Linked DNA regions of Homo sapiens: region 1 is linked to region 2. The links come from fine-mapping of genetic effects on gene expression. A gene starts in region 2. The other region holds a variant in brackets. All regions are shown on one strand. Distances are between the middles of the regions.

Region 1 (5,365 bases), 27 kb after region 2:
TGGACAAAGCTCATTCAGGGACCCTCCAATGTGAATCGACCAGACACAGTCCTCATGTGTCATGGGAGGGGGACAGGCAGCAGCTCCTGGAGCGGAAGGACGCCTGGCCCCTCCTCCGGCCCCAGATGCAGCTGCAGGTACAGGGAGGGCCTCCCAGGGCAGGCCAGAGCCTGCAGGCCCCCAGCTGCAGCCCCAGCTGGGACCAGGCTTCTAACCTCACCCCTTTCTTGCTCCTCCCGCCTCCACCATCTCTCCTGTGGAGCCCCCAAGACTCTGGAGGAGAAATCAAATACAAAACTCCTAGGAGAACAGAAAGGGGGCTGCTGCTGCTGCGTGCAGACACACTCATGCACACCCACGCACACACATGCAAACACACACATGCACACCATCCTTCGAGCCCACAGGCAGATCACAGAGAACCTAGATGTCAGGATGAGAAAGGAACTAGACGTGAGCTATCATCTGCCTCCTTGGGGCAAGGCCTGTGCCAAGGGATTTGCCAGGATTGTCTCATCCAATCCTGAAAAGAAGCTTGGAGATTTCAGAGATGAAGAAAATGAGCATCTGAGAGCTTAAGGGAGAGACTCAACCAAAGGGACACCTGGGGACGCTAAAGCCCATGAAGCTGAGCACAGGGCCTGGCAGCCAGCATGGTGGAGGCAGCTTAGCAGAGCTGGGGGGTCGCTCTTGTATTTATGTTTTTTTGTTTTGTTTTTGAGATAGGGCCTTGCTCTGTTGACCAGGCTGGAATGCAGTGGTGCGATCAAGGCTCACCGCAGCCTTAACCTCCTGGGCTCAAGCCATCTTCCCGTCTCAGTTTCCCAAGTAGCTGGGACCACAGGTACACACCACTATGCTCATCTAATTTAAAAAAAAATTTTTGAAAATACAAAAAAATTAGCCGGGCGTGTGGCAGGCACCTGTAGTCCCAGCTACTTGGGAGGCTGAGGCAGGAGAATGGCATGAACCTGGGAGGCAGAGCTTGCAGTGAGCCGAGATCACGCCACTGTGCTCCAGCCTGGGCGACACAGCAAGACTCCCATCTCAAAAAAAATTTTTTTTTGTAGAGACAGGGTCTTGCTATGTTGCCCACGCTGGTCTCCAACTCCCAGGATCAATCGATCCTTCCACCTCAGCCTCCCAAAGTGCTGGGATTCCAGGCGTGAGCCACCACGCCTGGCCGGTGTGGTTCTTTTAAGGGACAGCCCCCCTCATTTCCATTTGCTCCATGGGGCTACAGGGGTATTGCCCTGTGCTGGGCAGGCTCCTGACCCAGGCCTGTCCCATCAGGAGTACGGTGATCGCTACAGGGCTGGGTTGGGACCCAGCTCCAGCCAAAGAGAGGCAAACCTAGGATTCTGCTGGAACCCGTGGTAGACACAAGCTGGAGGTTCACAGGTCTGTGACATCAGGGCCTCCTCTCAGGAAGCGCTGGCCCAAGAGCAAAGCGAAAACGGAGGAAACCTGGCTGGGAGATGCAAGCCAGTGTTCCTGTGAGCACTGGACCCAGCTAGACCCTCGGCCTCTGCAGTTACACGAGCTGTCAAGGAACTGGTCTTTATTTCATTTATTTACTTATTTATTTATTTTTTAATTTGTTTTTGAGATGGGGGGGTCTTGCTCTGTCACCCAGGCTGGAGTGCAGTGGTGCAATCTTGGCTCACTATAGCCTCCACCTCCTGGGCTCAAGCAATCCTGCCTCAGGAGTAGCTGGGACTACAGGCCCGCACCACCACACCTGGCTAATTTTTCTATTTTTTTGTAGAGATGGGGTCTCACTATGTTGCCCAGGCTGGTCTCAAACTTCTAGGTTCAAGTGATCCTCCCACCTCAGCTTCCAAAAGTGCTGGGATTACAGGCATGAGCCGTTGTGCCTGGCCCAGAAACTGGTCTTTGAATCCAGGTCTGAACGCTGAAGCTCATGCTCTCTTCCTTGCGCCCCAGCTGTCCGCATAGAGGCTCTGATAGATCAGGGGCTCAGGCAAGTCTGGGGAGGGGGCCTCACCTCCCTCCCAGCCCCTGGAGGGAGTGTTGGACCCTCTCACCCCCCTCAAAGCAGTTCCATTGCTCCCTTTGACCTTCAAAGTTGGCATCTGCTTGCAGGAATCTGTCTCTCTCCTCCTGGAATTCAGCCTCCAGATGTCAGATCCGAGGCGGTGGCGGCAGCATATGGCTCCCCTCAGAGTGAATCAGCCACATTCCAAAGGTGCACACACAGACGCCACACCCTCAGCAGCCTGGCTGCAGACTTCCTCCCAGCCCCAGCACCCGGCACCCGCCCCAGCCCCCACCTCTTCCCAGCCAGACCCGACTTCGGGCTTCCTTTCCAGAGACTTTCTCCTGGAACTGGAACAGAGAGAAAGCCACTAGGGCTGGAGACACCCTGAGCAGCCCTGCTCTGCTCACTCGCTCCCAACCGCTCACAGCTGTTATCAATATATCTATGGTGCATCCACTCAACAGGTGTGCACTGAGCACCTATGATGTGGCAGACAAGATACAGACAAGCCCCGAACCTCACGGAACTCAGCTGGGCAAGAGCCCAACAAAATCAGGTCCAGAGGCAGAAAAGAATTCCAAGTGTGGGAAGAGCTATAAAAGGAAGAAACAGGCCTGGCGCGGTGGCTCACGCCTGTAATCCCAGCACTTTGGGAGGCTAAGGCTGGCAGATCATGAGGTCAGGAGATGGA[G/C]ACCACCCTGGCCAACATGGTGAAACCCCGTCTCTATTAAAAATACAAAAATTAGCTGGGTGTGGTGGTATGTGCCTGTAATCCCAGCAACTCGGGAGGCTGAGGCAGGAGAATCGCTTGAACCCAAGAGGCAGAGATTGCAGTGAGCCGAGATCACGCCATTGCACTCCAGCCTGGCGACAGAACAAGACTTCATTTCAAAAAAAAAAAAGGAAGAAACAAGGGCTCAGACACGTGACAAAGTGACAGAGGGAGGGTTATGGGGTGGGGGAGGCTTATCTTGGGGTAACTTGTAAGCTGAGGTCTGAAGGATGAATAGAAACGTCCTCTATCGGCTGGTCATGGGATTGCACACCTGTAACCCGGGAGCTCCGGGAGGCCCAGGCAGGAGGACTGCTTGAGTCCAGGAGTTCAAGACCAGCCTGGGCAATATAGCAAGATCCCATCTCTACTAAATTAAAAAAAAAATTTTTTTTAAAGAAACCTCTTCTATCCCGTCACTTCTGTAATCACTTCACGAGAATTACAGAAATATAACCCAAAAATATTTTCCCCAGTCACTCAGGAAGTTATTGGGTCCTCTTCTCCTGCCCCTCTTTTTTTTTTTTTTTTTTATCACTGAAGCAGGGAATCTGGCTAATTTTTTTAATAAGACCTTTGGTGAGGCCGGGTGCAGTGGCTCACACCTGTAATCCCAGCACTTTGGGAGGCCGAGGTGGGCGCATCACGAGGTCAGGAGATCGAGACCATCCTGGCTAACACGGTGAAACCCCGTCTCTACTAAAAATACAAAAAATTAGCCAGACATTGTGGCAGGCACCTGTAGTCCCAGCGACTCGGGAGGCTGAGGCTGAGGCAGGAGAATGTCCACCAACCTGGGAGGTGGAGCTTGTAGTGAGCCGAGATTGTGCCACTGCACTCCAGCCTGGGCGACAGAGCAAGATACCGTCTCAAAAAAAAAAAAAAAAAAAGAAAAAAAAAGACCTTTATTGAGATATAATCCATATAATTCACCACTTTACAATTACACCACAGTAGATGATTCAGTTGTTTTTAAATATCCACAGATCTGTGCATCTATAACTGCAATTTTGGAATATTTTCTTTTTCTTTTTTTTTCAAGACGGAGTCTCACTCTGTCACCCAGGCTGGAGTGCAGTGGCATGATCTCGGCTCACTGCAACCTCTGTCTCCCGGGTTCAAGCGATTCTCCCGCCTCAGCCTCCCAAGTAGCTGGGACTATAGGTGAGCACCACCGGGCCCAGCTAGATTTTTTTGTATTTTTAGTAGAGACGGAGTTTCATCACGTTGGCCAGGCTGGTCTCGAACCCCTAACCTCAAGTGATCCACGTGCCTTGGCCTCCTAAAAGTGCTTGGATTACAGGCATGAGCCACTGCAACTGACCAATTTTGGAATATTTTCATTAACCCAAAAAGAAACTCCACTTAGCAGTCACTCCCCGATGCTCACCACCACCCCAGGCCCCAGGCAACCCCTAAGCTACCCTATCTTTTTATTTATTTATTTTTAGAGACAGAGTCTCACTGTGTTGCCCAGGCTGGAGTTCAGTGGTTTGATCATAGCTCACTGTAGCCTCTACCTCTCAGGGTCAAGCAGTCCTCTCCTCTCAGTCTCCCGTGGAGCTGGGACTACAGGTGGGCGCCACCACACTCAGCTAACTTTATTTTTTTTTAGAGATAGGGGTCTCACTCTGTTGCCCAGGCTGGTCTTGAACTGCTGGTCTTGAACTCCTGGTCTCAAGTGATCCTCCTGCCCCAGCTTTCCAAACTGCTCATGCCTGTAGACGTAAGCCACTGCCCCTGGCCCTTAATCTACTTCCAGTCTCTATGGATTTGCCTATTCTGGAAATTTCATATGAACAGAAACACACAACATGCGTCCTGTGTGTCTGGCTTGTCACTGGGCATAATGCTTTCAAGGGTCATCCATGTTGTAGTATGTATTGGTGCTTCGTTTTTTTGTTTTGTTTTGTTTTGTTTTGAGACGGAGTCTCACTCTATCTCCCAGGCTGGAGTGCAGTGGAACGATCTCGGCTCATTGCAACCTCCGCATCCCAGGTTCAAGCAATTCTCCTGCCTTAGCCTCCCAAGTAGCTGGGTCTGCAGGCATGTGCCAACATGCCTGGCTAATTTTTTTAGAGACAGGGTTTCACCGTGTTAGCCAGGATGGTCTCGATCTTCTGACCTCGTGATCCACTGGCCTCGGCCTCCCAAAGTGCTGGGACTACAGGCGTGAGCCACTGCGCCCAGCTGCTTCGTTCCTTTTTATGGCTGAATCATATTCCACTGTTTGGAGAGACCACAGTTGATTTATCCATTCATCAGGTGAGGGACACATGGTTGCTTTCACTTTTTGGCTCTTATGAATAACACTGCTCTGAACATTCCCATGCAAATTTTTGTGCAGATATGTTCCCATTCCTCTTAGATATACACGATATATACCTAGGAGGGGCACTGCTGCGTCATATGGTCACTCCATGTTTAACATTTTTTTTTTTTTTTTGAGATGGAGTCTCACTCTGTCACCCTGGCTGGAGTGCAGTGGCCTGATTTCAGCTCACTGCAACCTCCACCTCCCAGATTCAAAGGATTCTCCTGCCTTAGTCTCCTGAGTAGCTGGGACTACAGGTGCCTGCTACCACACCCAG
Region 2 (5,365 bases):
CGGAGGTTGCAGTGAGCCAAGATTGCACTCCATTCTGGGTGACAGAGTGAGACTCCGTCTCAAAAAAAAAAAGACTGAGTGTCATTTTTACAGCTACCAGGCACTTGCCATACCCATAGCTAATTTTCTCACAGGTGCTCTGTTTCCCAGAGACTGAGAACCATTAGGCGACAGGTCCAAAACCTGCAGCTTGTGTGTGCAGCACCGTGCCCTACAATCCCCTCTGGCAGGCCTGGGAGACAGAAAGACAGGGAGATCCCTGCTGGTCACTGAGGGATGGAGCAAAGCCCACCAGCCTGAGATGACCCTGAGAAGCAAATGCATCTGGCCAGAAGGTCCTGCCTAATGAACACATTTGATCCCAGACTGGCTTCCCACCTCACCCTGCAACCCCTACTGAAGGTAAACAAATCCAGGGACCCCCAACTCCATGCCTAATGCACAGCTGACAACTGTCTTGCAATGGACGTTGCCATGTCCAACCCTGGACGAAGGCCCTACACCTTCAAGTCCTTGGCCTACCAAGATCCAGCTACCCTGGGGGACTGCTGGTATGCTCCAAAGGAACGCTTGGGGCAGGGATAAATTGAAGCCAGAATCTCAGGGGGCCCTGAGAGGACTCACCCAAGGCCCAGGCATGGCAGCCAGAGGGCCCCCCAACCCTGCCCAGGATCAGGCCCAGAATGTCTTCTCCAGTAGGCACAGCGGCTCAACTGCACCTCCGCGCTGCCCAGCCCAGCCCTGCAGCAGCAGCAACCCCAGGACAAGGGTTCAAGTTCCAGTTCCACCACCTGCTGTAGTGGTCCCTTCTCCAGTCTCTGTGTCCGCCTCTTTAAGCGGAATCAAAAGACACTTTTGACTCATAGAAAGATTATGACAACTCAGTGAGAAAATTCTAGCAAAGTGAGTCCCCAGAACATAAAAAGAGCTCAAGAATTTTTTTTACTTATTATTACTGGGCCCTCCAGGTGGGCCTCGTGCAAGGGCCAGCCCTCGGGGCATCCCTGCCAGCTGCCAAACCCATCAACTGGCCCAAGTCTAGGTATTGACTGGGAACTTCAGAGTAGCCTTAAGGTGGGGACCCCCGGGGCAGAGGGTTGGGCAGGAGTGTCTACACGTGTGCAGCAACCTTCCCTCCAGGCCGGATTCTGCAGGCGCTAGCGTCCACCAGCCTGTGCCACACCGGCGGGCTCCTCCTCCCTCAATCCCCGCCCAGACTGCCTCGGGCGGCAGAGCACGTGGCTCCAGCCCTGGGGAGCCATTTCGCTCCTGGAGCAGCGCGGCAGGAAAGGGGCCACAGGTCCCAAACTTGCGCACGCCGTAGAACGCCCACCTCCCCCACACCACGCCCAGGGGGTCGTTCAAAATGCAGATGTCCGGGCCCCAGCGATCAGAGTTCCAGGCATGTGCATTTTAAGAAGTGTGCGGGGTGGTTTGGCTGTGTGTGGTCCTTGAGTCCATCACCCTTTGGGTTTAGAGCAACCTAGGACCAAAGCTTGCAAAGTGGCTTCTGGGGAGGCCTGCGGACCTCGGGCCACCCACCCGGCTGGGGGACCCGACGCTTTCGGTTTACGGCAGGGGGGAGGGGCGTTGGATGGGAAAGTTTGCAGAGGAAACCCACGTGCGGCGGGAAGCTGCCCTGCGAGGCTAGGGGCGGCCTCAGGTGTCCCTTCCCCAAATGGCCTGCCCACCTGGCCTGCCTTGCCCATCGTGCCCGCGGGGGCCGAGCTTTGTGCAGGGAAAGCGTGGCCCAGGAGCGCCTACAAATCCCACAATGCTGCACCAGCAGGACACGGAGAACTACAGCTCCCGCGAGGCCGCGCGCAGAGGTCCGCCTACTCCAAGAGGGCTGCAGAGTCACGTCCAGGCCTCGCTAGTAAACAGCGCCCGGGCGCGGGCGGGCGAGCGAGCGGCAGCCAACGTGCCCCGGGCCGCGGCGCCCCTACCGGCCGCGCGGGCCCCTCGGGGTCCGCCCACCCCCAACACCCACACGCGAGCACGCCCCCGACCCCGCTGCAGCCCCGCTCTGCAAACACGCACAGTGCCCGGCTCCCCGCCCCCACCCCGCGCCGGGAGCCGCGGCATGGCTGCATTGTAGCCGCCCTAGCTACACCCCCACGCGCGCCCCGGGCCCCCAGACCCCCTTGGATGGGGACGACCTCAGATCCCGAGGAAGGAAGGAGAGGAAGGAAGCCGCCGCAGGAGGGGGAAAGAGGAAGCGCGGGGGGGAAGGCCACCAGCACCAAGCATGGCCGGGACTGCTGCAGAACCACGTGGGTCTGTTTGCAATTTACAAACGTCGCGACTCGCCCGCCTGCAGCGGACAAAAGTGGCCGGGGCCGCTTGGGGCCCCCATGCTCCAAGGAAGGAGGGTCCCGGGGCGGCGCGGACCCGGCGTGTGGGGCTGCAGCCGTCCCGGCAGCTAAGAAAGGCTAGCGGGGTCGGCGGCGCGGGCCATGCGTGCGCACACGCGCGCCCGCCCGGGCGGGCTGGCCGGGGGCTGCAGTGGTAGGAAGGGGGTGGGGGGAGGAGGAGTACACACCTACAGAGCCCTCCTATCACTTCTTTCTCTGTTTTCCTGAAATGTTGCAAAGAGGGCACCTTCTGAGTGGGCACCATGAAATACTCCATAGCGATCGGCCCCCCTCCTCTGCACGAGCCAGGTCCCGCGATCAGCCGGAGAATGCAAGATGGAAATCCGAATCAAAGGGCAGCGCCGGACGGAGGTGCAGAATCGGCCGGTCCCAGATGCTGGCGGCGGCGGCGGCGGCGAGGGGAGGGAGGCGGGCGGGAGGGGCGGGAGGGAGGTCTCTCCGGCCTGCCTCCCCGGGCGTGTGTATGTGTGTGTGTGTGTGTGTGTGTGTGTGTGTGTGTGTGTGTGTGTGTGTTTGCAGCTGATCAGATGTCTGTTTCAAGGCGGGAAACAGCTGGTGAAAACTCAGCACTCCCCCGGCCTCCTTCCGCGGAGTAAGGAATTGCATGTAAACAAAGGACTATTTGCAGCGCCCCCCGGGCGGCGCGAGGCCGGGGCGAGAGGGGCGCGGGCCCCCGGGGACCGGCTGCAACCGGGGTCTGCAGGCCTCTCGCGGGGCGCAGGGGGCCGGGGGCCGCGGGCGGGCTTGCGGGGCGCGGCGTGAATGGAGCGAGCTGCGGCCGAGCTACATGCGCCACTATGGGTGATGAGGTCCATCAGCTGACAGGTTGGCAAGCGTTGCAAAAAAAAAAAAAAAAAGGCCAGCCACCGCGCAGGGAGCCCAGCCCGTGCAGCCCGGAGTCCAGCAGCGACTGGCCCAGAGCAGGGTCCGCGCGCTCGGCCGGCCCGCAGGGAGGAGGGGGCGCGGCTGGGTCGGGCGTGCAGCGGCAGCAAGGAAGGCGGCCTGGGGTTCGCGCTTGGGGCTTCTGCTTTTTCACCATTGCAGCTGCACGGAGCGGAGCCTCTCCGGTGTGCTCCCTTCGAGCCGAGCCCAGGGCCCCCTGGAAACTTGCGTCACAGCCACCGCTTCCCACATGTAACTCGGGGCTGACTTCGGAGGCCGGCCAGCTTCCTCCCTCCCGCCTTGCTTAGCTGGCCGCACGGCCGGGACTCCGGATCCTGGGAATCTTGGACCCGGCGACGGGACGGCAAAGGGCGCCTCGGATGCTGGGGCCGCCCTAGGAAGCCGGGGGCCCCGGCAGGGAGGGGAGGGTGGAGGCGGGCCTGAACGGCAGCGGCCCCCGGGCGCAGGCTGCCAGCGCTGCGGGGAGGTCTGCTGGTTGCTGCCGGGTCCCCTGCTATTCCCCCAGACCCGCACTGTTCCCTCCGCGGGCTGAAGGCTGCAGCTTCCCATTCATAACAAAGCCCGTGTGGGACTTGCCCCTCCGCCAGGATGCGCTCCCCAAGAGGGGGTGACGACTTGGGGCAGGGACGGGGACCCTGGCGGCGAGCTTCCGTCCTCCGCTCGCACGCCGCACCTTCCGGCCCCAGGCCCTCCCCTGGCTCCTGGAGGGTTGGCTCCTGGCTCAGGAAGCCCACGCCTGCCTTGGAATGTCCTGGATCCTGCCCACCGCCTTCCAGGTTCCGCCTAAATCGCGCCTCCTAATTTGACTTATTCCTACTAGTAACAATAGTTACTGTTATTATTGGGAAATATTGTTATTAGATGTTGCCAGCACCCGGTGGATGCCGAGCAGTTTTGCTTACACGCTCTCCAATCCTTGAAGCAACCTGTTAGGCAGTTTCTCTAAGGAGAGATCCCAGACCACTTGACCAAAAAAAAGTCTCTGGAAGGCTTACTATGTTTCTACTTAAAAAAAAAAAAAAAAAAAAAAAACTTTCGGCTGGGCGCGTTGGCTCACGCCTGTAATCTCAGCACTTTGGGAGGCTGAGGCGGGTGGATCACCTGAGGTCGGGAGTTCGAGACCAGCCTGACCAACATGGAGAAACCCCGTCTCTACTAAAAATGCAAAATTAGCCGGGGGCCTGGTGGCACATGCCTGTAATCTCAGCTACTCGGGAGGCTGAAGCAGGAGAATCGCTTGAACCCGGGAGGTGGAGGTTGCAGTGAGCCAAGATCATGTCATTGCACTCCAGCCTGGGCAACAAGAGTGAAACTCCGTCTCAAAAAAAAAAAAAAAAAAAAACCTTTTTACTGTTTTTCAACAAATAGAGATAGGAGTCTCACTGTGTTGCCCAGCCTGGTCTTGAACTCCTGGGACTCAAGGAATCCTACCTCTACCTCCCAAATTGCTGGGATTACAAGCATGAGCCATGGATGGCCCTGGTGGGAAGCCTATTTTTAACTGCCCTTAGTGAGCAAGCTATTCTTTTTTTTGTTTTGTTTTGTTTTGTTTTTTAAGACGGAGTCTTGCTTTGTCACCCAGGCTAGAGTGCAGTGGCACGATCTCGGCTCACTGCAACCTCCGCCTCCTGGGTTCAAGTGATTCTTCTGCCTCAGCCTCCCAAGTAGCTGTGGTTACAGGCACACACCACCAAGCCCGGCTAATTTTTGTATTTTTAGTACAGATGGGATTTTGCCCTGTTGGCCAGGCTGGTCTCAAACTCCTGACCTCAGGCGATCTGCCCACCCCGGTCCCCCAAAGTGCCAGGATTACAGGCATCAGCCACCTCACCCAGCAGTGAGCAAGCTATTCTGGTGCATTACTGTCTCCTTATCCTCTCATTTTGCACATGGGAAGACAGAAGCTCACAGCTGCAGACAAGAATGCACTCAGGAGTGCTGGCTGCAAAAAGCCCTGGTTCTTTATATCACACTCATCCTCCCACCTGCCACACCTCACCTCTGATCAGGGCCTTATTTTGTACTTGCTTTTGTTATTTTCCAGAGCAAAGCATTCTGTCATACTTAGTTATATGTGGCCTTCAGAG

The links. PIP is the estimated chance that this variant, and not a neighbour inherited with it, causes the effect. A credible set is the group of variants that fine-mapping cannot tell apart.
Region 1: its variant is the best candidate, but not a certain one, in a credible set for the expression of TFAP4 in blood mononuclear cells (TOPMed, PIP 0.89).

The regions. Positions count from the first base shown.
Region 1 is chr16:4,297,057-4,302,421 of GRCh38, forward strand. No RefSeq gene overlaps it. Among named protein-coding and RNA genes, the nearest start is that of GLIS2, 16 kb to the right of the region's middle. RefSeq lists an enhancer at 1-552 and a silencer at 2,052-2,346. The variant G/C (reference allele first, on the strand shown) is at 2,694.
Region 2 is chr16:4,270,116-4,275,480 of GRCh38, forward strand. TFAP4 (transcription factor AP-4) reads right to left here and starts at 2,908. Exons shown (of 7, transcript NM_003223.3): 1 at 2,543-2,908. The coding sequence starts at 2,631. RefSeq lists enhancers at 1,125-2,101, 1,643-1,832, 2,733-2,782, 3,079-4,054 and silencers at 1,913-2,072, 2,433-2,482, 3,203-3,852.